Linked DNA regions of Homo sapiens. The protein of the gene in region 3 purifies or fractionates together with the protein of the main gene of each other region. This does not show direct contact. Each region holds a gene or a part of one and is shown on either strand. Other genes may lie near its edges. The genes, in order: PDSS1, PDSS2, THEM4, NENF, PRORP, SIRT5 and TOP3A.

What was found.
Region 1: the proteins of THEM4 (region 3) and PDSS1 purify together in Homo sapiens (affinity purification with mass spectrometry; 2 studies listed by BioGRID and IntAct, with this or other methods). This does not show direct contact.
Region 2: the proteins of THEM4 (region 3) and PDSS2 purify together in Homo sapiens (affinity purification with mass spectrometry; 2 studies listed by BioGRID and IntAct, with this or other methods). This does not show direct contact.
Region 4: the proteins of THEM4 (region 3) and NENF fractionate together in Homo sapiens (co-fractionation; one large-scale study listed by BioGRID). This does not show direct contact.
Region 5: the proteins of THEM4 (region 3) and PRORP purify together in Homo sapiens (affinity purification with mass spectrometry; 2 studies listed by BioGRID and IntAct, with this or other methods). This does not show direct contact.
Region 6: the proteins of THEM4 (region 3) and SIRT5 purify together in Homo sapiens (affinity purification with mass spectrometry; 2 studies listed by BioGRID and IntAct, with this or other methods). This does not show direct contact.
Region 7: the proteins of THEM4 (region 3) and TOP3A purify together in Homo sapiens (affinity purification with mass spectrometry; 2 studies listed by BioGRID and IntAct, with this or other methods). This does not show direct contact.

Annotation. Positions count from the first base shown.
Region 1 is NC_000010.11:26,704,201-26,707,700, forward strand, and holds part of PDSS1 (all trans-polyprenyl-diphosphate synthase PDSS1), read left to right. Parts: intron 1-476; coding exon 477-541; intron 542-1,085; coding exon 1,086-1,194; intron 1,195-2,999; exon of another isoform or gene 3,000-3,128; intron 3,129-3,500. UniProt on the Homo sapiens protein: Heterotetrameric enzyme that catalyzes the condensation of farnesyl diphosphate (FPP), which acts as a primer, and isopentenyl diphosphate (IPP) to produce prenyl diphosphates of varying chain lengths and participates in the determination of the side chain of ubiquinone.
Region 2 is NC_000006.12:107,449,565-107,453,064, reverse strand, and holds part of PDSS2 (all trans-polyprenyl-diphosphate synthase PDSS2), read left to right. Parts: intron 1-3,500. UniProt on the Homo sapiens protein: Heterotetrameric enzyme that catalyzes the condensation of farnesyl diphosphate (FPP), which acts as a primer, and isopentenyl diphosphate (IPP) to produce prenyl diphosphates of varying chain lengths and participates in the determination of the side chain of ubiquinone.
Region 3 is NC_000001.11:151,892,512-151,896,011, reverse strand, and holds part of THEM4 (acyl-coenzyme A thioesterase THEM4), read left to right. Parts: intron 1-817; coding exon 818-1,004; intron 1,005-3,500. UniProt on the Homo sapiens protein: Has acyl-CoA thioesterase activity towards medium and long-chain (C14 to C18) fatty acyl-CoA substrates, and probably plays a role in mitochondrial fatty acid metabolism. Plays a role in the apoptotic process, possibly via its regulation of AKT1 activity.
Region 4 is NC_000001.11:212,435,920-212,439,419, reverse strand, and holds part of NENF (neudesin precursor), read right to left. Parts: intron 1-3,500. UniProt on the Homo sapiens protein: Acts as a neurotrophic factor in postnatal mature neurons enhancing neuronal survival. Promotes cell proliferation and neurogenesis in undifferentiated neural progenitor cells at the embryonic stage and inhibits differentiation of astrocytes.
Region 5 is NC_000014.9:35,275,337-35,278,122, reverse strand, and holds the end of PRORP (mitochondrial ribonuclease P catalytic subunit isoform 1 precursor), read right to left. Parts: 3' UTR 501-2,786; downstream 1-500.
Region 6 is NC_000006.12:13,573,243-13,577,400, reverse strand, and holds the start of SIRT5 (NAD-dependent protein deacylase sirtuin-5, mitochondrial), read right to left. Parts: upstream 2,801-4,158; 5' UTR 2,657-2,800; exon of another isoform or gene 2,030-2,656; intron 1-2,029. UniProt on the Homo sapiens protein: NAD-dependent lysine demalonylase, desuccinylase and deglutarylase that specifically removes malonyl, succinyl and glutaryl groups on target proteins.
Region 7 is NC_000017.11:18,273,962-18,276,994, reverse strand, and holds part of TOP3A (DNA topoisomerase 3-alpha), read left to right. Parts: intron 1-2,014; coding exon 2,015-2,193; 3' UTR 2,194-3,033. UniProt on the Homo sapiens protein: Releases the supercoiling and torsional tension of DNA introduced during the DNA replication and transcription by transiently cleaving and rejoining one strand of the DNA duplex.

The DNA.
Region 1 (3,500 bases), on a different chromosome or scaffold from region 3:
AATAACTACTTTTAACACCCTGGTTTGTGTGCTTTCAAACTCTGTTCTCCCATTTCCAAAGGATGTTGAGGAACACGAACTTAAAATAGACAGTGTTTGTATAAATATAAATTCCTTCCTTGCTATTGAAATCTTTTTTCCTCTGACCAATCTTAGTTAAATGGAAGGAAATTGTTTTAAAACTAATTTTCAGGTCTGGAAAGATAGATATGAATATGGAAATGGCTTTCTTTGGGGGAAGGGATGGACTGAAGATGGTTTTTATTTTCTCCTTTTTTCTTATTTATGTTTTCTGCAATGACAAGTATTTTGTAATAACAAAAGGAAACTTTAAAATTATTCTTCCTCTAAAGTTTGCAATCTACCTGTAAATGGGTGATTAGAAGATAAAGATTATAATTATGGGGGTTTTATCATCCAATGTTACAGTTTTTCAGGAATATTCTTACAAGTTTCTTGACATTTTTATTTTATAGATACCCTATATTAATCTTGTGAAGCATTTAACATCTGCCTGTCCAAATGTATGTCGTATATCACGGTAAGTTTACAGTCCATACTGCAACTACTAAAATTATCCATTTTTAAATTTATTGTTGTTTAAAAAATTTTTTTTGTAGCGATGGGGAGCTCACTGTGTTGCCCAGGCTGGTCTTGAACTGCTGGCCTCAAGCTATCCTCCCACCCTCAGGTTCCCAAAGTGCTGGGATTGCAGACATAAGCACCCGGCCTAAAATTATTAATTATATTGCCTGTAAATTTCTATTCTAAATTGTAGATCTCTGCCTATTCAAAAAACAGGAATATAATAAAGTTTGAGCTCAACCCAGAGCACAATGAACATAGTTTAGTTTTTCTTTGATTTTGTGGGTTCTCAAGGCCCTATTTATAAAAGTGATCTATTGATCTGTCATTTAGCAAGAATAGAATTCTGTATGTTTTTCCAAATTATAATGACCTTTTCAGATTCATGATTAATTTCTAGCAAATATTTGGGCTGAATTTTCCGTATCTGAGTCTACTAAATATATATGTATATAAAACTTACTTGAAAATGAAGTCATGTGCATTTTTGCATGTCCCAGGTTTCATCACACAACCCCAGACAGTAAAACACACAGTGGTGAAAAATACACCGATCCTTTCAAACTCGGTTGGAGAGACTTGAAAGGTCTGTATGAGGACATTAGAAAGGTGAGTTTTTTATTCTGCTGTGATGTAATGTTTTAGCTTACCAAAACTTACTAAAATTTTATTTTATTTTTTATTCTTATAATTATTATTATTTTTTGAGCTGGAGTCTCACTCTGTTGCCCAGGCTTGAGTGCAGCGGTGCAATCTAAGCTCACTGCAACCCTTGCCTCCCAGGTTCATGCAATTCTCCTGCCTCAGCCTCCTGAGTAGCTGAGATTATAGGCATGCGCCATCACACCTGGGTAATTTTTGTATTTTTAGTGAAGACGGGGTTTTGCTATGTTGGCCAGGCTGGTCTTGAACTCCTGACCTCAGGTGACCTACCCACCTTGGCCTCCCAAAGTGCTGGGATTACAAAAAAACAGTGCAGGTTTTCAGATCTGTACAATGCAGTTTGCAATCTTGATTGACGTATGGTCAAGTTTCAAATGTTTCTTGAGAAGAATACATATGACCCAGTGCCAGGCAATATGAAGAATGCAATATGTATTTATGTCCAGAAAGAGGTTATGGCAGGGTTGGGAACCTGAAGGAAAAAAATGGTCCAGGTAGCTCATGCTTGTCCAATGAGTTATCCCACCTTTCCTCTTAAAACCCACCACCTCCCAGTGACTCCAGCTGTCTCTTCCTTATCTAATTCTGAATGTCATTGCCAGTCTGCCCCAAATATGGCTTTCTTCATTCAACTCTTTTTCCTGAAAACTTTCAGTAGTTCCCAACCTCACGTGGTTGGGCACCGTGGCTCGTGCCTGTAATCCCACCAATTTAGGAGGCCAAAGCAAGAGGACTGCTTAAGCCCAGGAGTTTGAGGCTGCAGTGAGCCATGATCCCGCCATTGCACTCCAGCCTGAGTGAGAGAGCAAGACATTTTTTCTGTCTTTAGAAAAAAATTGGCTGGGCACGGTGGATCACACCTATAATCCTAGCACTTTGAGAGGACACCACTTCCTGTTTCACAGACAGTAGGGGCTGTGGAGGAAGAACTCCTTCAGCTCCTGCTCTGTCGCAATTGGCCAGCTTGCCTGCGCCTTCTCTGGCGATTGCCTGCTCTCCTCCCACCCGTGGAAGTCATGTCCCTTCCCTCTCTAGGGGCAGTCCCTTAGCCAACCTCCCTAGTTTCTTAGGAACTCCCCCAGACATGGCCTCTCCCTCTGTCTGCAAACTTTCATTGGCATGGTCTTCCATATCCATTGGGTGTTCAGTTTCTTCACCTGCATTTTTAAAAGGCCCATCCACTGACCCAGTGCTTCACTCCCTCCCTTCCCTCACAGTATCCCCTGCCCTCTGCCTTCCTCCAGTGCCTTCATGTTCCCTCCACTATTGCACTGGGGCCCCCTTTCCAGCCTCTCCTCTGAAGCTGGTTTTGCTTGGGTCACTGATAGCTTCCCTGTGCTAAATCCAATGGATGTGTTACCAGCAGCAAATTTGTACAGGTCTGCAGCAACCTCAATTCTTGCCTCCTCAGAAGAAAGAATTCGACTGAGGGGCCTAAGGCAGAAGGAGAGACGGAGGCAAGTTTTAGAGCAGGAGAGAAAGTTTATTATTAAGTGTAGAGTAGGAAGGGAAGGAAGTAAAGTACACTTGTAAGAGGGCCAAGCTGGTGACCTGAGAGAAAGTGTGTGGTTTGACCTTGGAATTTGGGTTTTAGATGTTGGCATACTTCCAGGGACTTGCATCCCGTCTCCCCGGATTCTTCCCTTGGGGTGGGCTGCCCGCATGCGCAGTGGCCCGCCAGTGTTGGGGAGGGGAGCATGCTCAGTGTGTTTACCGGAGTTTTGCGCATGCTCACGTGAGGCATTCTTCCCATACCAGTCCCAGTTTTCCTAGAAGGACATACACCAATTAAGCTCTGCCATTTTGCCTCTTAGTGTGCATGGTTGAGCCGACTCACCCAACTCCCGAGATCTTATTGGGAAGCTGATCACCAGTTTCAGGTTTTTGTATCTATTGAGAGACTGCCGTCCCTTGGCACCAGCTGTGACCAATTAGTATTTTAGCGACACAGTTAACAACTGCTTGACCATCACGTGATGGTCGCCTTCCTGTTGTGGGTCGGGGAGCCCTCTCCTGCCCTGCTCATGCCTGACTAGCTATCTACTGTAACGGACACTTCCTGGTTTTCTGACCATTGGGCACTATTGACTGTAACCCCTCCTTGAAACATGGTTCCCTTCACTCTGCACTTTGTTCCCCCTCCTTATCCTGAGGCTTTTCTTCGGTTCATCACCTCCAGCTCACTTCCTTTAATTTTGCCATTCCCTGGGGTTCCGTGGGCCCCCTCCTCTCTCTCTTCCTTATATATCTGT
Region 2 (3,500 bases), on a different chromosome or scaffold from region 3:
AACATCTTCAGGACCTAGGGCTAGGTAAGCAGTTCTTAGACATGACACCAAAAAATTCATAAAAGAAAACAATAATTGGACTCCATAAAAGTTCAAAACTGGCCAGGCGTGGTGGCTCACGCCTGTAATCCCAGCATTTTGGGAGGCCGAGGCGGGCAGATCACAAGGTCAGGAGTTCGATACCAGCCTGACCAACATGGTGAAACCCCATCTCTACTAGAAATACAAAAATTAGCTGGGCGTGGTGATGTGCACCTGTAATCCCAGCTACTCAGGAGGCTGAGGCAGGAGAATCGCTTGAACTTGGGAGGCGGAGGTTGCAGTGAGCCGAGATTGCGCCACAGCAAGCCAGCCTGGGAGACAGAGTGAGACTCTGTCTCAAGAAAAAAAAAAAAGTTTGAAACTTAGCTCTGTGAAAGACCCTGTAAAGAGGGTGAAAAGTTTAGCCACAGACTGGGAGAAAATATTTGCAAATCACATATTCAAAGAAGGGCTTGTATCCAGGTTATGTAAAGAAATCTCTGAACTCAAGAGGTTGGGTGCGGTGGCTCATGCCTGTAATCCCAGAACTTTGGGAGGCCGAGGCAGGTGGATCACTTGAGGCTAGGAGTTTGAGGCCAGCCTGGCTAACATGGTGAAACCCTGTCTCTACTAAAAATACAAAAATTAGCCGGTGTGGTGGTGGGTGCCTGTAGTTCAAGCTACACCAGAGGCTTAGGCAGGAGAATCACTTGAATCTGGGAGGCAGAGGTTGCAGTGAGATCGCGGCACTGCACTCCAGCCTGGGCAACAGAGTGACACTCTGTTGCAAAAAAAAAAAGAACTCTCTAAACTCAAGAAAGCAAACAATACAATTAGAAAATAGGGGAAAAAGCTTGTGCGGTGGTGCATGCCTGTAATCCCAGCTACTAGGGAAACAGAGGCAGGAGGCTTCCTTGAACCCAAGAGTTTGACTTCAAGGCTGCAGTGAGCTATGATTGTACCACTGCACTCTAGCCTTGGCAACAGAGCAAGACTTTGTCACTTAAAAAACAAAAAAGAAGAAGAAAGAAAAGAAAATGGGCTAAAAGAAAAACCTATAAAGGTAGCAAGTAAGCATATGAAAAGATGTTCAACATTATTAGCCTTTTGGGAAATGCAAATTAAAATCACAATGGGATGTTGAGGTGATCGGGCCCAACACCAGGCCCTGAGGGCTACAAAGTCTGGCGGGGTCAAAGGAATGAGAAAAGACAAGTTAAGAGTTCATAAGGTGTGTCCAGAGGGCCAGCGCTAGATTGGAGGCTGCAAAGGCCCCGAGCTCTGGGAACCCGCCCTATTTATTGGTGATCAAACAAAGAAGCAGGTGGTGAGGACATGAGGGTAAACAGGTGAGGGCATGAGGAGGTGAGAGTAGAAAGGTAGTGGTGCATTAAGTGTAGCTGTGACGGTTTAGCACTTCCTTTGACCCATATAGAATATGCTCTGCTGCTTGAGATAATGGAGGGCATGTTTACAAGAAAGAAGCAAGGAACCAACAAGTCTGTGCACATTCCAGAGGCTACGAGGGGTTTATGCCCTGAGCCCTGGATTCCATCAAAGCCACAAGGGGTTTTATGCCCTGGGCTTAGATTTGTGGTGCGGCAGTGTAGCCTTCCACCCTTTGGCACAGAGCTTGGTGTTCCAAAGGCCACGAGGGGTTTCAGACCCTGGATCCCGGACATCTTCCAAGACTCTTTTACATTATGACAGACAAGCCAGTCCTGCCTCAGCTCTTCTACCAACAATGGGATACTACTATGTACCAATTAGAATGGCTAAAATAAAAAATATAATATGTAATTCTAGTAACGATGCAGATAAACTAGATTTCTCATGCATTGCTGATGGGAATGTAAAATGGTTCGGCCCCTCTGGAAAACAGCATAACAATTTCTTATAAAATTAAACATACGACTGGGCACAGTGGCTCACGCCTGTAATCCCAGCACTTTGGGAGGCTGAGGCAGGCAGATCACTTGAGTCCAGGATTTCAAGACCAGCCTGGGCAATGTGGCAAAATGCTGTCTCTACAAAATATATAAAAAATTAGTTGGGTGTGGTGGTGCACACCTGTGGTCCCAGCTACTTGGGAGGTTGAGGTAAGAGGATCACTTGAGCGCGGAAGTTGGAGGCTGCAGTGAGCCATGATCGTGCCATTGCACTTCAGCGTGGGTGACAGAGTCAGTCCCTGTCTCAATCAATCAGTTGATTGATCAATCAGTTTAAACATACACTTACCATGTAGCCCAGCAATCAGACTCCTGAGCATTTATTCCAGAGAAATAAAAACTTATGTCCATACCAAAACCTATACACAAATGTTTGTGGCAGTCTTATTTGTAATAGGCTGCCATAACCTATAGAATTATAGGTTGAAAATCCTACATATATGTATTTCTCCTTTGCAGTTAAGTTTCTTGTATTAATGCCATTTTCATTCCACAGCTTGGATAGGGCTGTGTGTTCTTTCTAGAGGAAAGATCCTTTCTTTAGAATGATGTTCCATAATTTCACCTTGATGGTTTTTGGAGTGGAGAATGAAGGCCTTCTTAACTTAATCCTATATCCTTTATTTTGGGATGATTTTGTGTGTTATTTCTTCAGTATCATGGTTCCCACCATTTTTCTCTCTCATGTTGGAATTTTGTAGTTGGTCATTGTGAATTGATTCCTCAACATTCTTCCCCCTACATTCATAGTTTTCCTTTCTTTAATTTATCCTCTACATATATACTGTTTGTTATACTGTTTTAATTCTGTCTTTAATTATTTCCCAACTGGAAACAACCCACATATCCTAGTGAGTGGTTGAACAAACTGTGGTCCATACATAACAACGAAATGCTACCCAACAATAAAAAGAAATGAACCACTGATACAACAACTTGGGTGAATCTCAGATGAATTATTCTGAGTGAAAAAAGTCAATCTCATTCATCAAAAAATTAAAAATAGAATTACCATATGACCCAACAATTCTGCTTCTGGGTGTGTTTCCAAAAGAATTGAAAGCAGTGTCTCAAAGAGATATTTGTATACCCATGTTCATAGCAGCAGTATTCACAGTAGCCAAGAGGTAGAAGCAACCCAGTTGTCCATTGATGGTTGATAGGATTAACAAAATGTGGTATATATTACCATGGAATATTATTCAGCCTTAAAAAACAAGGAGGGACCAGGCACAGTGGCTCATGCCTGTAATCCCAACACTTTGGGAAGCTGAGGTGGGAGGATCACTTGAGGCCAGGAGTTTGAGACCAGCTTGGGCAACACAGTGAGACCCCATCTCTATAAAAAAATAAATTAACTAGACATGGTGGCTCCTAAAAATAAGTTGGCTAGACAGCTGCTCTAGAGGCCAAAGTGGGAGGATCGTTTGAGCCCACGTGTTTGAGGTTGCACACGTGTCATAATATGGATGAACCTGGAGGACATTATGCTGAGTGAAATATGGAGGACATTATGCTAAGTGAAATAAG
Region 3 (3,500 bases):
CAAAAAAAAAAAAAAAAAAAAAAGGAAGCAAGAAAACTTACAGTCATGGCAGAAGGCAAAGCAGGAGCAGGCACTTCACATGGACACAGCAAGAGCAAGAGTGCAAGGCACAAGGTACTATACACTTTTAAACAACCAGATCTCATGAGAACTCACTATCATGAGGACAGTACCGAGGAGGATGGTGCTAAACCGTCCATGAGAAATTCACCCCCATGATCCATTCACCTCCCACCAGGGCCCACCTCCAACTTTGGGGATTACATTTCAATATGAGATTTGAGCGGGAACACACATCCAAACTATATTCCAGTGTTTTTTTTTTTTTTCCTGTAATACTTTTTCCAGCTGGCTAATTTCTGCTTATCTAATCAATATTCAAGTCAAAGAACCCCTTCCTGAACCCCTAATCCTAGATGAGTACTTCTCCCTTATCCCCTAACTTCCTGTGCATAGCCACTGGAAGCACTTTCAACATGGAAGATAATGCCTGTTCTTAACCTCCATCTCCAGTGTGCTGGGCTTACCTGTGCTTGATTAAAGTCTGGAAAAAAAGAATGGAATCAGCAGACCTGAGCATAATCCTGGCTCTGTCAATAGCTCGCTGGGTGATGTTGAGCAAATCATTTTCCCTCTCTCAGTCTCTCATTTTCCCAAGGAGGTTGGACCAGATGATCCCTGAAATTCCCTTCCATTTTGAAGTGACAAGCTTATGGGGAGAAGAAAAGCAGCAAGATAATCTTAGAAATTGGGAGAATATGTTATGAAATAGAATGCACCTCCCATTACTTACTTTTCTTTTTCTTCTGTCTTTTAGAGGTCATTTTCTTCTGAGGAAGTCATTCTTAAGGACTGTTCTGTCCCCAACCCCAGCTGGAACAAGGACCTAAGACTGCTCTTTGACCAGTTTATGAAGAAATGTGAAGACGGCTCCTGGAAACGTTTGCCTTCATATAAACGTACACCTACTGAATGGATTCAAGACTTCAAAACCCATTTTCTTGGTAGAAACAGCCACTTTCCCATTAATATATCTGAGCATCAAATATAAAGCTAAGAACAGATTGAAGTACTAGTTACTACCTGAAAAAAAGAAAGAATATAATGCAGGATTATGGTTCTATAGTCACCAATTTTATAGACCAGAAATCACAATAAATTTTGCAGATTGGAGAGCATAAAGCCTATTGTCAAGAATAAGACTGCTCCCACCCTGGCATTCTTATCACCATTAGCAAGAGTGAAGAAAGGGCCCCAGAGAGCTTCCACCCTCCTACAACCTCATCACCTCTCCGTCTTGAGGCTGTCATCTAATCTCATTTCACCCTTTATCCCATATCTGGTTATATCACCCTAAGAAGCTTAGAACACTCAGGTTATACCCACATCTCCCAGTATCTAAATCCCCAGGGCAACCCACCCAACACCCAAAACACACACATAGCAATTCCTATCCTTCTGTGTTTTTTTACTAATATACTTTTTTAGCATTATAATTTTATAGAAAAATTAGCCTAAAGTACAGAGAGTTCCCATATACCCTTTATCCCCTCCCCACCCCTAATTTCTCCTATTATTAACATCTCACATTACTGTGGTGTATTTGTTACAATTGATGAGCCAATATTAATATATTATTCTTAATTAAGGTCCATAGTTTGTTTTAGGGTTCACTCTTCGTATTATGTTTTCCGTGGGTTTTAACAACTGTGTAATGACAGATATCCATCATTATAGTATATTTGAATCATTCACAGATATTTCTGAGTTACTCATTATCTTTTAATCATCCAAACACATCTTTAGGTGGTGGTTGGTTTTTTTTAACTGACTTTTAAGAAGGCCCTTGGGCCAGGCACCGTGGCTCATGCCTATAATCCCAGCACTTTGGGAGACTGAAGCGGGCGGATCACTTGAGGTCAGGGGTTTAAGACCAGCCTGGCCAACATGGTGAAACCTCGTCTCTACTAAAAATACAAAAAAAATTAGTTGGGCCTCGTGGCGGGGACCTGTAATTCCAGCTACTTGGGAGGCTGAGGCAGAAGAATTATTTGAATCCAGGAGGCAGAGGTTGCAGTGAGCTGAGATCGCGCCACTGCACTCCATCCTGGGCAACAGAGTGAGACTGTCTCCCCCCCTACAAAAAAAAAAAGAGAAAAAGAAGGCTCTCAATATTGCCCAACAACCATACTTCATGTTTCCCTAGTTTATTCACTCTCCTCCCTTACTGGATGAGTATTTTCTGCCTTTTTCTTTCTTCTTATGCCTCTAATACTTTCCCTTCTCACCCTCAGTTGGTCTCGCTTCCTATCTCACTAAGAGAAAATAAAAGCAGTCAGAAGAGAACTCCCAGTCTCCCATTGCCTCACATATCCTCCCCCCTGCATCTGTGCCTGATGTTCTGCTTCTTCCTGCTGTGAGTGAACCATCCACACTCTTAGGGAGACCAAGCCTTCCATTTGTGCGCTGCATTCCATTTTCTTTGGCCTACTGAAGGACATCCATCTCTGCTAGATGTTTCGTATCAGCATATAAACATGCCACAACTGCATTTCTCTCTTCCCAGTCTCTCTCTCTCTCTCTCTTTTGTTTTGGGTTTTTTTGTTTTGTTGTTTTTTTGTTTTTTTTGTTTTTGGTTTTGAGAATGAGTCTCACTGAGTCACTCAGGCTGGAATGCAGTGGCGTGACCTCGGCTCACTGCAACCTCCTCCTCCCGGGTTCAAGTGATTCTCCCACCTCAACCTCTCAAGTAGCTGGGATTACAGGTGCATGCCACCACACCCAGCTTATTTTTATATTTTTAATAGAGACAGGGTTTCACAATGTTGGCCGGGCTGGTCTCGAACTCCTAAATTCAAGTGATCTGCCCCACCTTGGCCTCCCAAAGTGCGGGGATTACAGGCATGAGCCACTGTGCCCAGCCTATCTTGAACCCACTCCCTCAAAACAGCTCTTGCCAAAGGTACCAGTGACCTTCATGTTGCTGAGTCCGCTAACCTCTCAGCTTTTGGCACAGCTGTTGACTCCTTTCTGTTTGAACATAACTTCTAGGACACCACATTCTCCACTTCACTGGTGCCTCCTTTTCAGTTTCTTGGGCTGGCTCTTCCCCATCCTCAAACCCTTCATGTTGGGGTGCCCTCAAGTCTCAGTCCTTAGTACTCCTCTCTTCTCCACACTCCATTGGTAATCTCATGCAGTCTCTCAGCTTTAGAGACCATCCAGAAGTTGACAACTTCTTAATTAAATGGTTGAAATTTAGTGCCTGGGTTCAAATTCTGGTTCCACAATTTAAAGCTGTGCAACTTTGAGCAAGGCACTTTACCTTTCTGTGCCTCAGTTTCCTCATGGTAGATACTTTAGTATTTGCTGAAGGAATGAATAAAACAAAAATAAAACTAATCAAGAAAAATTATAGAGTTCTTAAGTTTCTTTGCAGAATCTCTGATATATCTCGAGGGAAGAATTATTCTGTTTTATAAATGAAGAGGAAAAATGTG
Region 4 (3,500 bases), about 61 Mb from region 3:
CAGACGTGTGCCACCATGCTTGGCTAATTTTTTTTTTTTTTGTATTTTTAGTAGAGATGGGGTTTCTCCATGTTGGTCAGGCTGGTCTTGAACTCCCAACGTGAGGTGATCTACCCGCCTCGGCCTCCCAAAGTGCTGGGATTACAGGCGTGAGCCACTGCACCCAGCAATCTCCTTTTTTTAACAGTAAAATTTTTATCTCCTCCTTAAACTACTTACTTGAAGGTGTAAGTGCGAAGAGGAAGTCATATTATAGGGGAAGAAAAGAATGTTTAGCATTTTTGAGGCCTCAGAGTGACATAGATACCTCATATGCCATGCAGAGGAATGGTCTTATCAGTAAACAGAGCGTGCTGTGGTGGTGAGTTCTGACCCAGTGTAGATGAACATCCATGGATAGCACAACCCCCAGGCACAGACTCTCAGGCCTGGGAAATGACAACTGAGAAGGTGGAGGGTGGGTGGAAGGCTTGGGAGTATAAATGCAGACACAGGAATAGAAGTGACACAGAAACAGCCAGGCATGGTGGCTCCCAGCACTTTGGGAGGCTGAGGTGGGCAGATGACTTGAGGTCAGGAGTTTGAGACCAGCCTGGCCAACATGGTGAAAACCTGTCTCTACTAAAAATACAAAAATTAGCCGGGTGTGGTGGCAGGTGCCTGTAATCCCAGCTACTGGGGAGGCTGAGGCAGAATTGCTTGAACCCGGGAGGCGGAGGTTGCAGTGAGCCAAGATCACACTACTGCACTCCAGCTTTGATGACAGAGCAAGACTCTGTCTCCAAAAAAAAAAAAAAAAAAATACAGACACACACACGCAAAACAAAACAAAATCAGCCACTGCACTCCAGCCTGGGTGACAGAGTGAGACTTTGTCTCAAAAACTAAACTAAAATAAAATAATCTTGTAAGGCAGTTATTACTATACCCATTTTGTAGGTGAAGAAACTGAGGCTTAGAGTTTACATAACCTGTCAATGGTTTCTCTGCTGGTAAATAAAAAGTCAGGATTCAGACTCATACCTGTCTGATTCTAAGCCTTTGCCCTTCCTAGGGCAATTCTTCCTTATTGAAAACTTGAATACCAATCTCTGGCCTGCAATCTGTAGACAGTGAAACCCTGCTATCATAACAGGTGTGTGACAAGGCAAAAGCTACCGGTGAACATGTGCAAGCAATATCTCTACCTATCAGGGCAATTTTGACAGGAGTTGAAGAAAACAAGCGCCAAAGAAAGGCACTCTGGAACACACTACCTTTTTTTCCTCTATTTTCAATTTTGTTCAACACACTCACTTTATAACCTGTTATCTACATAAGAGGTCCTCAAAATCACCTCTTCTGTACAACCCTTACTAGAATTACTGGGAGAATGGAGTTCTAAAGAAGCACCAAGGAGATGCTGTCCAGATTTTTTTTCTTTTTTAAAATAGAGACAAGGTCTCACTACGTTGCCCAGGCTGGTCTCAAACTCCTGGGCTTAAGCGATCTTTCCAGCTCGGCCTCCCAAACTGCTGGGACTACAGGTGTGAGCCACCACACCCCGCCCAGATTTTCAGCAAGCATTCGAAGAGGACTAATGTATACCAAAGATTTTTCTATTCCCATATGTGAATGATTTAGGGAGCCTTGGATCACTCTGAGGCCCTACAATGCCTAAAAGGAAAGAACTGGCTCTTGGTGCAGTAGATCCAGAACACAGTGTGGCTCTGTGAAAGACACTGACAGCCAGGACACCCATGCTTCACGGATTTCCCATCTGAAGCTGCCACTGGAGAAACTACGCAAATCCCTGTGTGGGTGTCTGAGCTCTCTCACCTTGAACCACACAGTGGGATGTGTGACTGATAGAGGCGGGTCTGCCTTGGCTCTCATCCAAGAAAGAAGGTTTTTTTATATCTAGTAGAAGCAAGTCACTCATTGCTAGATGTTTCAGAAAGCCTTGTTACACAGGTCCACAATCCCACAGCAGAAACTCTTGGGGGTCAGACATGTTTTCAATATGAAAATATGTCAGATTTTAGAAAGGTGTTATGGGGAACATACCATATATTATGCAATACCTCTAGGGAGGTCCAAGGCAACACCCATAATCAAGTATGTTAGTATTTCTCCAGTGAAACATGAACATTCACAGTAAATGGGATAAAGACTAACGTAGACTCATAGCAGCTCCAACAAGGTTCTGTCATCAAGTGATTTCAGATCAAGCTGGGTTTTTCTGTCAAATGACTTGTGAAAAACAAAAATGTCTAGGTTTCAGAGTTTATTAGATTTCTGTAGTGCATGAAAGGACCGTGGACCTGTTATAATGCCTCTTGCTTGTATCTTTAATAAGGTAATAAAAAATAATAGTAGCTAACATTTATTAAGACTTACGGTGCTAAGCCCTATTCCAGGCCTACGCTAAGCCTGTGCACACCACCATCTCATTTAATGCAGGCATTCACAAAACACCTGCTTAGAGTAGGAACTCTTTTTTTTTTTTTTTTTTTGGTAGAGGTGAGGTCTTGTTATGTTGCCTAGGCTGGTCTCAAACTCCTGGCTTCAAGCAATCCTCCTGCCTCGACCTCCCAAAGTGAGTGCTGGGATTACAGGTGTGAGCCACCACACTCAGCCAAGTAGGAACTCTTATTATAACCATTGTGATGATTTATTTTATGTGTCAATTTGCACAGGTTACTGTACCCAGTTATTCAATCAAATACTCACCTAGATATTGCTGTGCATCTACAATCAATTGGCTTTATATAAGGAAATAATCCCAGATAATCTGGGTGGGCCTAATCTCATAATCGAAAGACCTTAACAAGGCTGGGTACAGTGGCTTACGCCTGTAATCCCAGTACTTTGGAAGGCTGAGACGGGTGGATCACGAGGTCAGGAGTCCAAGACTAGCCTGGCCAAGATGGTGAAACCCTGTCTCTACTAAAAATACCAAAAGTAGCTGGGCATGGTGGTGGGCGCCTGTAATCCCAGCTACTCGGGAGGCTGAGGTAGAGAACTGCTTGAACATGGGAGGCGGAGGTTGCAGTGAGCTGAGATCACACCACTGCACTCCAGCCTGGGAAACAGAGCAAGACTCCGTCTCAAAAAAAAAAAAAAAAAAAAAGACCCATGGGCTACAGCATCTGCTCCTGCCTGAGGGCTTCCAGCCTGCCCCTTCTGATAGCCTGCTCTATGTATTTCCAATTTGCCCAGCCAGCCCCCGCTATCGTGTAAACCAATCCTTATGATAAACCATTTATCTATCTATATATAGTTGACCCTTGAACAACACAGGTTTGAACTGCATGGGTCCACTTATATGTGGGTTTTCTTCCACCTCTGCCACCCCTGAGATAGCAACACCAACCACTCCTCTTCCTTCTCAGGATGCAGACCTTTATAATGATCCACTTTCACTTAATAGTAAATATATTTTCTCTTCTTTATGATTTTCTTAGTAACACTTTCTTTTGTCTAGCTTACATTACTGTAAGAATTCAGTATATAATACA
Region 5 (2,786 bases), on a different chromosome or scaffold from region 3:
ATCTGACCTGGTCTCATTAAAATGAATTAATGTCTATCATATTCAAAATTAAAGCCCCTACTATTGATTTCTCAAGTATTTGCTTCTTGGGCTGGCTTTTAAATAGCACTGAAGAGATGAGTGGGACAGTCATTTTAATGTGCTCGAAATTAACTCTCTACATCAAATTTCTTGTCAGAAGTTACCAAAACCTTCCTATGTTACTGCTATTTATAACAACAAATTACCACAGTTATCATAATAACTCGATCCATTAGATAAGAGTATACTTCTGAGGGCACTCTGGTAGCAAAATAATTTTTAGCTGCCATCAGTGACTAGATAATTGTCTTCCTGTTTATTTCCATTACCAGTTAAAAGCAAGTTGTGTATGTAGTAGAACCTCTGGAAGCACTCGTCAGATCAAATAATGCCAAAAAAACCCACAAAAACAAAAAACTAAACTTGGGGAGAGGGAACGTCAGGACATCATGAAAAAGCATAAATGGAGATGATAAAAGTAAAGATTATTTCTCAAATTTTATTACATTTATTCATCTGTGTTCCTGTCTCTTGTATTTTCATCCTGTTAATTTCTATGGCTTCCCCTCTGTAGAGCTCTAAATGGAACTTCCTTTGTTTATTTAGCACAGACTCAAGCAGACTGCTTGTCACTGGCCAGGACTGGGCAGGTAAAAGCTGGTCCTATTTCCTTTCTGCTCACTCCTAAGTGCCTTTTACAAATTTCCTTTCTTATTCTTGCTCCCCTCCTGCCTCCTGTAGGGCTGCTGGACTATAGATAGAGATGCCTCATTTCAGGCTGTGCGGGGTGACTCACACCTGTAATCCCAGCACTTTGGGAGGCTGAGGTGGGTGGATCACCTGAGGTCAGGAGTTTGAGAGCAACCGGGGCAACATGGTGAAAACCCGTCTCTACTAAAAATGCAAAAATTAGCCAGGCGTCATGGCGCATGCCTGTAATTCCAGCTGCCCGAGAGGCAGAGGCATGAGAATTGCTTGAACCCAGGAGGCAGAGGTTGCAGTGAACTGAGATCAAACCATTGCACTCCAGCCTAGATGAAAAAAGATCAAGACTCTGTCTCAAAAAAAAAAATAAATAAAAGTGAGAAATCTGCTAGAGGACCAAGGAAGCAGTAATTATATTTAAGTGCATACTTGAGAAGAAAAATTAATTTCCTATGAAGAATAAGCCACCTCAGATGAGGTAGACCCAACAGAGCCCTGAGAGAATAAACTCAGCCTTCTTCCTTGAGATTTTCTTTCCACTGGGTCTGAGAACAGCAGGAGGAAAAGTGTATAAATTCAGAATGCAAGGGGGAAGCACAAAGTATTTTAGAAATACTTTTAAGTGGCAAAGTCAATGCTCTTTCAAATCCTTCATTGTTCACAACTGATTTTAAAGATACTAACAATTTAAGAGTACAGCTTTTAAAATAATTCCTCCTTCTTGTGGTGTCCAGGAGCTTGCTTGACAGGTACCTTTTTTTCACTCAAATGATCAGAACACAAATGGGCAGCCTAAGTGTCTGGTACCAGCTGCTTCCTTCAGGGAATCCCTGCACTCCTCAAGGTCACCGTGGCAGTATGACTTATGCTGAGCAACCCTACAATGGTTCCCCACTCCTGGACAAGGGACAGATGCACTTCAGTTTATCTCAAGCAGAAGTTAGGGTTTTGTTTCTAAACAGTATTAGAGTTATTTTAAAATGTAATTTCTCTACCACAATGTTCTATACTGCTGAGCCATTCAGGATACTTGGGCCCTTAAAAGAGGTACACCCCTGTTCCTTCTTCTCATTCTTACCTCCCTCCCTTTGAGACAGGGTCTCACTCTGTCACCTAGGCTGGAGTGTAGTAGCATGATCATAGCTCACTGTAGCCTTGACCTCTGGGGCTCAAGTGATCCTCCCACCTCAGCCTTCTGAGTAGCTGGGACCACAGGCATGTGCTACCATGCCCAGCTAATTTTTAAATTTTTTGTCGACACGGGTCTCCCTGTGTTGCCTAGGCTGGTCTCCAACTCCTGGCTTCAAGCAATTCTCCCATTTGGCCTCCCAAAGTGCTGGAACTGTAGGTGTGGGCCACCATGCCCTGACTCCTCCCCCATCTCTATGTGCCAGTAGAAGAAAGAGTATTTGGGAATTAGAAGAGCTGGGTTATGGCTGAAATGTCTGCACTAACTAGCCGTGGGATTCAGGGAAGCCAGGTCATCTTCCTGGGTCTGTTCCTCATCTCCAAAATGGACTTTACATGCTCTAAGGTTACTCCTGCTCTAAAGTTCTAGTTTTCTTCTTGTAGCTTCTCCCGTCTTTTTTTTTTTTTTTTAAGAGACAGGGTCTTGCTATGTTGCCCAGGTTGGTCTCCAACTCTGGGCCTAAAGTGATCCTCCTGTCTTGGCCTCCCAAAGTGCTGGAATTAACAGGTATGAGCCACCACTTCGGCCTCCTCCTCTATCTCTATGTGCTCCTTTTTTGGGAATTTGCATTAGCCTTTTAGATGGGCTTAATAAATACTTTTTGTCTTCTTAAAATGTTTTTCTTAAAACTATGATAGTTACTTAAAAAAAGAAGTTTAGCTCACTGAAAGCACAGTTTCCTAAGTATGTAGTTTATGAAATTTGGAAAATAAGCAGACTGAATTTATTAGAGCTTTTGCAGTATCTTTTAATGCTCTCAATATATCCAATGTTTTCCTGGAGAGCTCTTTTGTCTTGGTGTGCAGTAATGTTGCATTCAGTAAATAGGTAAGAAGATAAAACGTCCCCTCCTTGGATTTTCCTAAATTGT
Region 6 (4,158 bases), on a different chromosome or scaffold from region 3:
ATTAAAGAAAAAACCACTTCAGGTAAATTTAACCAAAGATATAAGACCTGTACACTGAAAACCATAAAACACTGATGTGAGAAAAGAGACACAAATAAGTAAAAAGGTATCCCATGTTCGCGGATTAGAAAAATTAATGGTTGTTAAAGTGTCCATACTACCCAAAGCAATCTACAGATTCAATGTAATCTCTATCAAAATTCCAATATCATTTTTCACAGAAATAGAAAAAACAATCCTAAAGTTCATATGGAATTGCAAAAGACCCTAAATAGCCAAAGCAGTCTTGAGTGAAAGGAACAAAGCCAAAGGCATCACACTCCCTAATCTCAAAATATATTATAGGGCCATTGTAATCAAAACTGCATGGCACTGGCATAAAAATCGGCACATCAACCAATGGAACAGGAATAGAAAGCCCAGAAATAAGCCCAAGTATTTACAGTCAATTGATTTTTGACAAAGGTGCTAAGAACACACAATGGGAAAAGGAAAGTCTCTTTAATAAATGGCATCAGGAAAACTGAATATCCACATGCTGGATAACAAAATTGAGTCCTTATCTCACACCATATACAAAAATCAACTCAAAATAGATTAAAGTCTCAAACATAACACCTGAAACTGTAAAACTAATAGAAGATAACATAGGTGAAAACTCCATATTAGTCTGGGCAATGATTTCTTGGATAGGACCCCAAAAGCAACAAAAGCAAAAATAGACACATGGGATTGCATCAAACTAAAAAGCCTCTGCACAGCAAAGAAAATAATTAACAGAGTAAAGAGACAACCCACAGACTGGGAGAAAATATTTGCAAACCATGCATCTGATAAGGGGCTCTTATCTAAAATATATAAGAAACTCAAAAAACTCAACAGCAAAACAAAACAAAACGAATAACCCGGTTAAAAAATGGACAAAGAACCTGAACAGGTATTCCTCAAAAGAAGACATATGAATGGTCAACAAATACATGAAAAACGCTCAACTTTGCTAACCACCAGGGAAATGCAAATTAAATCACACTGAGCTACCACCTCACGCTTGTTAGAATGGCTATTATAAAAAAGATCAAAGACAACAAGTTTTGTCCAGAATGTGGAGAAAAGGGAACCCTGGTACACTGTTGGTGGAATGTAAATTAGTACAGCCATTTTGGAAAACAGTATGGAGGCTCCTCAAAATCTAAAAATAGAATTACCACATGACCCAGAAATCCTACTTCTGGGTATATATACAAAGGAATTGAAATCAGTATGTTGAAGAGATAGCTGCATTCCTGTGTTGTTTTCAGCATTATTCACAATAACCAAGATATAGAAGCAACTAAGTATCCATCAACTGAGGACCGGATAAAGAAAATGTGGCACATATATACAATGGAATACTATACAGTCTTAAAACAGAAGGCAATTCTGTCATTTGCAACAACATGGATGAACCTGGAGGACATGAGGCCAAGTAAAATAAGCCAGGCACAGAAGGACAAACAGCACATGATCTTACTTATATACTTGGGGTCTAAAAAAGTTGAACTCATAGAAGCAGAGTAGAATGATGGTTACCAGGGGCCTGGCAGAGGGCTGATGTGGAAGGGAGGGATGTTGGTCAAAGGATACAAAGTTTTAGTTAGGTAAGAGGAGTAAGTTTTAGTGATCTACTGCACAGCATGGTGACCATAGTTGATGATGTATTGTATATTTCCAGGAGAGTAGATTTTCACCACAAAAAATAAGTAGGTGAGGTGATGGATATGTCAATTAGCTTGATTTAATCTTTCTACAATGTATACATATATCAAAACATTACACTGTACGCTATAAATATATAAATTTGTCAATAAAAATAATTATATAAATATATATTTATATAAAACAAAATACATGCTAAGGATAATGCAATGAACTGCAAAAAGTTGTACAGGCTCCCAATAAATAATTTTTGAACGCCTAAGAGCTAAATAAATGCAATACATCACTCCCAGGTGTCTCCACTAGGGGGCCCCATTCCCTCCCGTTCCATCACCTGCTTTCCTCAAGGTCGTCTCCACCCTCCTATTTGTTGATACCCGGCCTCTGACCCAGTTCATCACTTTCCCGGGCTTCCGGGCGCCACCCTCTTCAGGTTTTCCTCCTACCCCTCCAGCCCTGCCCCTCTGGATCTCCCATCCTCCCAGCGCGCCAGACTGCATGCGGCCTCCCCGCCCTGTGTCCAAGAGGCAGCTTCCACTCCACGCGGGCAAGCCTGAGCTCCAGAGCCGTCCTCAAGCCGCCTCCCCCCGAAGCACTGGGACTTCATCCTCCCGGCTACTACTCGTGCCCAGGGACTAGGCCCTGAGCCTTCCCTTCTCGCACGCCCCATAGCCAAGCTGCTCAGCAGAACCTGACGGCTCCACCTTCAAACTACGTCCGGAATCCGACCCCTCTCCACGCCCACTGCCTCCACCCCGGCCACCTTCCTCGGTCACCCTGGCAGCTGCAATGACCAGGGTGACCTTTCTGAAAAGGGAGGCTCTGTTCGGAGCCCTCGCGGGGCTCCCCAGCACAGCGGCCTCCCATGCCCACCTGCTCGGGTGGGATTACTTTCCAACCCCGTTTCCATCCCCCTCCCTGGTCTCCAGCCGCAGCGACCCCCACGCAGAGCCCGGAAGACCTTGGGCCCCGCACATGCTGCCGGCCCGCTAAGAGCTCTGGGTACCCCCGGAGCGCCTTCCAGGCTTTCTCCTAGAGGCGCTGTGTCCCGACCGCGCTCCGGACCTGAGCCACGGCTCACCTGGGGCAGCTCGCGCCCCCGAATACAGTCTCCCACGCCCCGCCCCCCGGGGTGCCTCCCTCCCAGCTCTCTGTACCCACCCACCATCCCCCACATCCCTTCCTCCAACCGCTAGCCAGTCACCAGCCCGGGACCGCAGGGCAGAGGCCGGGCCGCGCATGCGCACCGCGGACCGGTGCCACCTCCGCTCGCGAGCCCGCGGCAGGCCCTGGGCGGTGCGCGCAGTCCCGCGAGAGCAGTGCTTGGTCGGGACCTCGAAGCCGGAGCCCGAGCGGGAGAGGCCGCGGAGACCCCGGCCCGGCGCAGGCAGAGACGCACCTGCGGGAGGCGGGCGCGCCGGCTGGAGAGGAGGCCGTGGGGCGGAGCGGCTCAGCGTTCTGCTCGGCTGCAGCGGCCCCTGCCGGAGACCCGGGCGCCGTGGTCTTCTTTATAATTGAAGGATTGTCTCTCTGTTTTTATTTGGGGTGGGGGTGGGGGTGGGGGGCGGCGCAGTGACTTGCTTCGACTTTGTCAGCTTCCAGGGTTCATTCCACTGCCCAAATATGTAGTGAGTTACTACCGGCTTTGCTTCCTCCTTCAGCAAACGGCTGGACCACACAACTTCAGGAGAGAGGATTTTAAATGTTAGGGTCATTTTCCCTAAAACGATTTCAAATGACGGTGAGTTGGTTCCCAGGCTAGGCCACCTAACCTCGAACGCAATGACGAGTGCACTCTGACTGCTGAGCTGAGAGCCTTCCGTGGCTCTGGGACCCAGTGACTCACGTGGCTCCGCATGTCCCCGTTCCCTTAAAATCGGAGTCTTTCCTTTTCTTGGATTCCGGCTTGCCACCAGCACCACTTGGCAGAATGGAATTGCTTGCGGGCATGTCAGTGGACTAGAAAGGGAAGTAAGTGGTCTGAGAACTTGGGGGCCAAAAATGTTACATTAACATTTTTTGCCTACCTAAAATCTCAGCCACTTCCCACAGTTTGGCTGGAAATTCAGCCCATGTTGAGGCCCTTCTCATTCCTGCAGGTGTTACCAGCAACTCAGAGGTTTATGGAGTAACGAAATTGGGGAGGGCCTCACATCCGGCTGCTGTTTTTCCCCCTAACGTGTATGGTGCTTATTCTGAGCCAGACACTTTTAAGAACTGCACATTATTAACCATTTTAAATCGTCCCCACCACCTGATGAAATAGGTACTGTTATCCCCACTTTATGGGTGGGGAAACCGAGGCCCAGGGAGGTCAAGTAACTGCGCAAAGCACAAAACTGTTGAGTAGTAGTGTTACCAGGGCAGTCCTGGAGAAATCGCTCAGAGGGCAAAACTGAGAGCTCATTATTTTCTTAAACAGTAGACAGCTGAAAATGCTCATTGTTTTTTAAACCGTTTTGT
Region 7 (3,033 bases), on a different chromosome or scaffold from region 3:
TTAGGCTGGTCTCGAACTCCACCTCAGGTGATCCACCTGCCTTGGCCTCTCAAAGTGCTGGGATTACAGGCGTGAGCCACCGTGCCTGGCCCAGCCTCATTTCTTCAGATGAAGATGCCAACCCCGATGATATTTAGGAACCTGCCCAGGGTGACACAGCTTGGGCCAATGTCCGGGAACTGGGTGTCATGAGAAGTGGCACCTGGACATTGCATCAAGTTGAATGGTGTACGTGGAGGCACTTTGAATGGTTCCTCCTGCTCCAGTGCACAACAGAGCTTAAGTAGCTGAGAATGACCCAAAGGCCTAGTGGGAGCTTTGGAGTTGAGCAAATCTGGTTCCAAAGCTCAGCAGTATAACCTTGAACAAATGACTTAGCCTCTCTGCCTCAAGTTTGCTCAACAAGATGGTCCCTGCCTACATTCATAGGGTTCCTGTTTTAGAAAGGAGTTTAGTCTCAGACTATGATTCTTACACATGTGTCACTAGCCCGGCATGCACAGAAAGAAACCAGAGGTTTGGTAAAAACTGTGGGACTTGGAACTGGCTACCAGTGCTAATGGGGCCCAGAGATGGCCATTGCAGTGAGAGACCCACATTTGAAGTGAGATGCAGTCTGGCCTCTTGTCTCCCCACTTGGAAGGACATGGTATCTGACCTCCAGGCTGGCTGACTGACTGTCCTGGGTAAATGAGCAGCTGGTCTGGAAAGGCCTGTTGAGGGGACAGGAAGGGATCCAGAGCTGGACTTTCCTGCATGGAGGTGGGCCGCAGGTTGCCGGTCATAGGCTGCTTGTCTTTCCCACCCTACCACACAGGCCAGCTTGCTTGGGTTTCTGCCTCTGTAAAAAGGGCCGGCATGAAAGTCCACTTACCAAGTGAGTGTGGGACAATGTCTCCAAAGCTTAGGATTCTTGAGGGAGAGGTGTCAGGTAACATAAGGCAGCAGGCACATCGCACCTCAACCTTACAGAGTTGGACACAGTGTGAAGGGAGGCTGGCTGGTGGGGTGTACATGGCTGTATAAAAACTGATTCAGCCGGTCGGGCGCGGTGGCTCATGCCTGTAATCCCAGCACTTTGGGAGGCCGAGGCGGGTGGATCACGAGGTCAGGAGATCGAGACCATCCTGGCTAACACAGTGAAACCCCGTCTCTACTAAAAATACAAACAATTAGCCGGGCATGGTGGTCGGTCCCTGTAGTCCCAGCTACTCTCGGGAGGCTGAGACAGGACAATGGCGTGAACCCGGGAGGCGGAGCTTGCAGTGAGCCAAGATTGCACCACTGCATTCCAGCCTAGGCGACAGAGCCAGACTCCACCTCAAAAAAAAAAGGCCGGGCACGGTGGCTCACGCCTGTAATCCCAGCACTTCGGGAGGCCAAGGCGGGCGGATCACAAGGTTAGGAGATCGAGACCATCCTGGCTAACATGATGAAACCCGTCTCTACTAAAAATACAAAAAATAAAGTAGCCGGGCGTGGTGGCGGGTGCCTGTAGTCCCAGCTACTCGGGAGGCTGAGGCAGGAGAATGGCGTGAACCCGGGAGGTGGAGCTTGCAGTGAGTGGAGATCACGCCACTGCACTCCACACTCCAGCCTGGGTGACAGAGCGAAGACTCCATCTCAAAAAAAAAAAAAAAAAAAAAAAAAGTTGGTTCAGCCTTATCGTCTGCTGCTCTTTTTTTTTTTTTTTTTTTTTTTGAGACAGGGTCTTGCTCTGTTGCCCAGGCTGGAGTGCAGTGGTGTGATCACAGCTCACTGTAGCCTCCCAGGCTCAGGCATCCTCCCGAGTAGCTGTGACCACAGGCATACACCACACCTGGCTAATTTTTGCATTTTTTAAAGACAAGGTTTCACCATGTTGCCCAGGCTGATCTTGAACTCCTGGGCTCAAGCAATCCTCCTCCCTCAGCTTCCTAAAGTGCTGGGATTACAGGCATGAGCCACCGTGTTCAGGACTTGCCACTTCTGCATGTCAGTTCTAACCTCACCCCTCCCCTGACTCTCCCGACAGGGACTTCTGGAGCCCCGTCCTGGACAGGAGACAGAGGAAGAACCCTGGAGTCGGAAGCCAGAAGCAAAAGGCCCCGGGCCAGTTCCTCAGACATGGGGTCCACAGCAAAGAAACCCCGGAAATGCAGCCTTTGCCACCAGCCTGGACACACCCGTCCCTTTTGTCCTCAGAACAGATGAGCTCAGGGTAGGGTAGAGAACGCCACTTTCTCAGACCTGTCCCCTTTGTGTTTAGAAATGAGTTAACCAGGACCAAGTGGCCATTTAGTGTCCTGGAAACTTAGAGGACAGTGTTGGCCTTTGGAGTCGGGCCTTCTTGTGTTAAGGGGCACAAGGTCCAGATCACTCTGGAGCAGGCCAGCTCTGCTGGACAGTGACCCTCTTCCCAGGCCTCAGGAGTGACCATAGCCACTGCTGAAAAGTCACGCAGCTGCTCCCTCGGACCCCCCAAGGATGGTTGCTGTTAGCAGAGGATTGGTGCAGTCCCAGCTGAAGCCCACTGTGTGCCAAAGGAAGAAGCTCCCAGGGCTGCTTCCTTCACCTGCAGAAAGCCCCAAGTGAGCCACCAGCACTCATGGGGCAGTCCCTGTCCAGGCTGCCCAGGGCTTCTCATAGACGTCCTGAGAAGGACGGTGTAATGCAAGGAAATGGCTGTGGTAACACTGATCCTTCAGAAGAAGCTTCATTCCCTCTTAATCTAGTTAAGCCAGGACATCCAGAATTCATTGCTTTAATAAAGAACCCAGGCCGGGTGCAGTGGCTCATGCCTGTAATCCCAGCACTTTGGGAGGCTGTGGGGGGCGGATTGCCTGAGCTCAGGAGTTCGAGACCAGCCAGGGCAACATGGTGAAACCCTGTCTCTACTAAAATACAAAAAATTAGCCAGGTGTGGCGGTGTGCGCCTGTAGACCCGGCTACTCAGGAGGCTGAGGCAGGAGAATTGCTTGAACCCGGGAGGCGGAGGTTGCAGTTAGCTGAGATTGCGCCACTGGACGACAGAGCGAGACTCAGTCTCAAAAA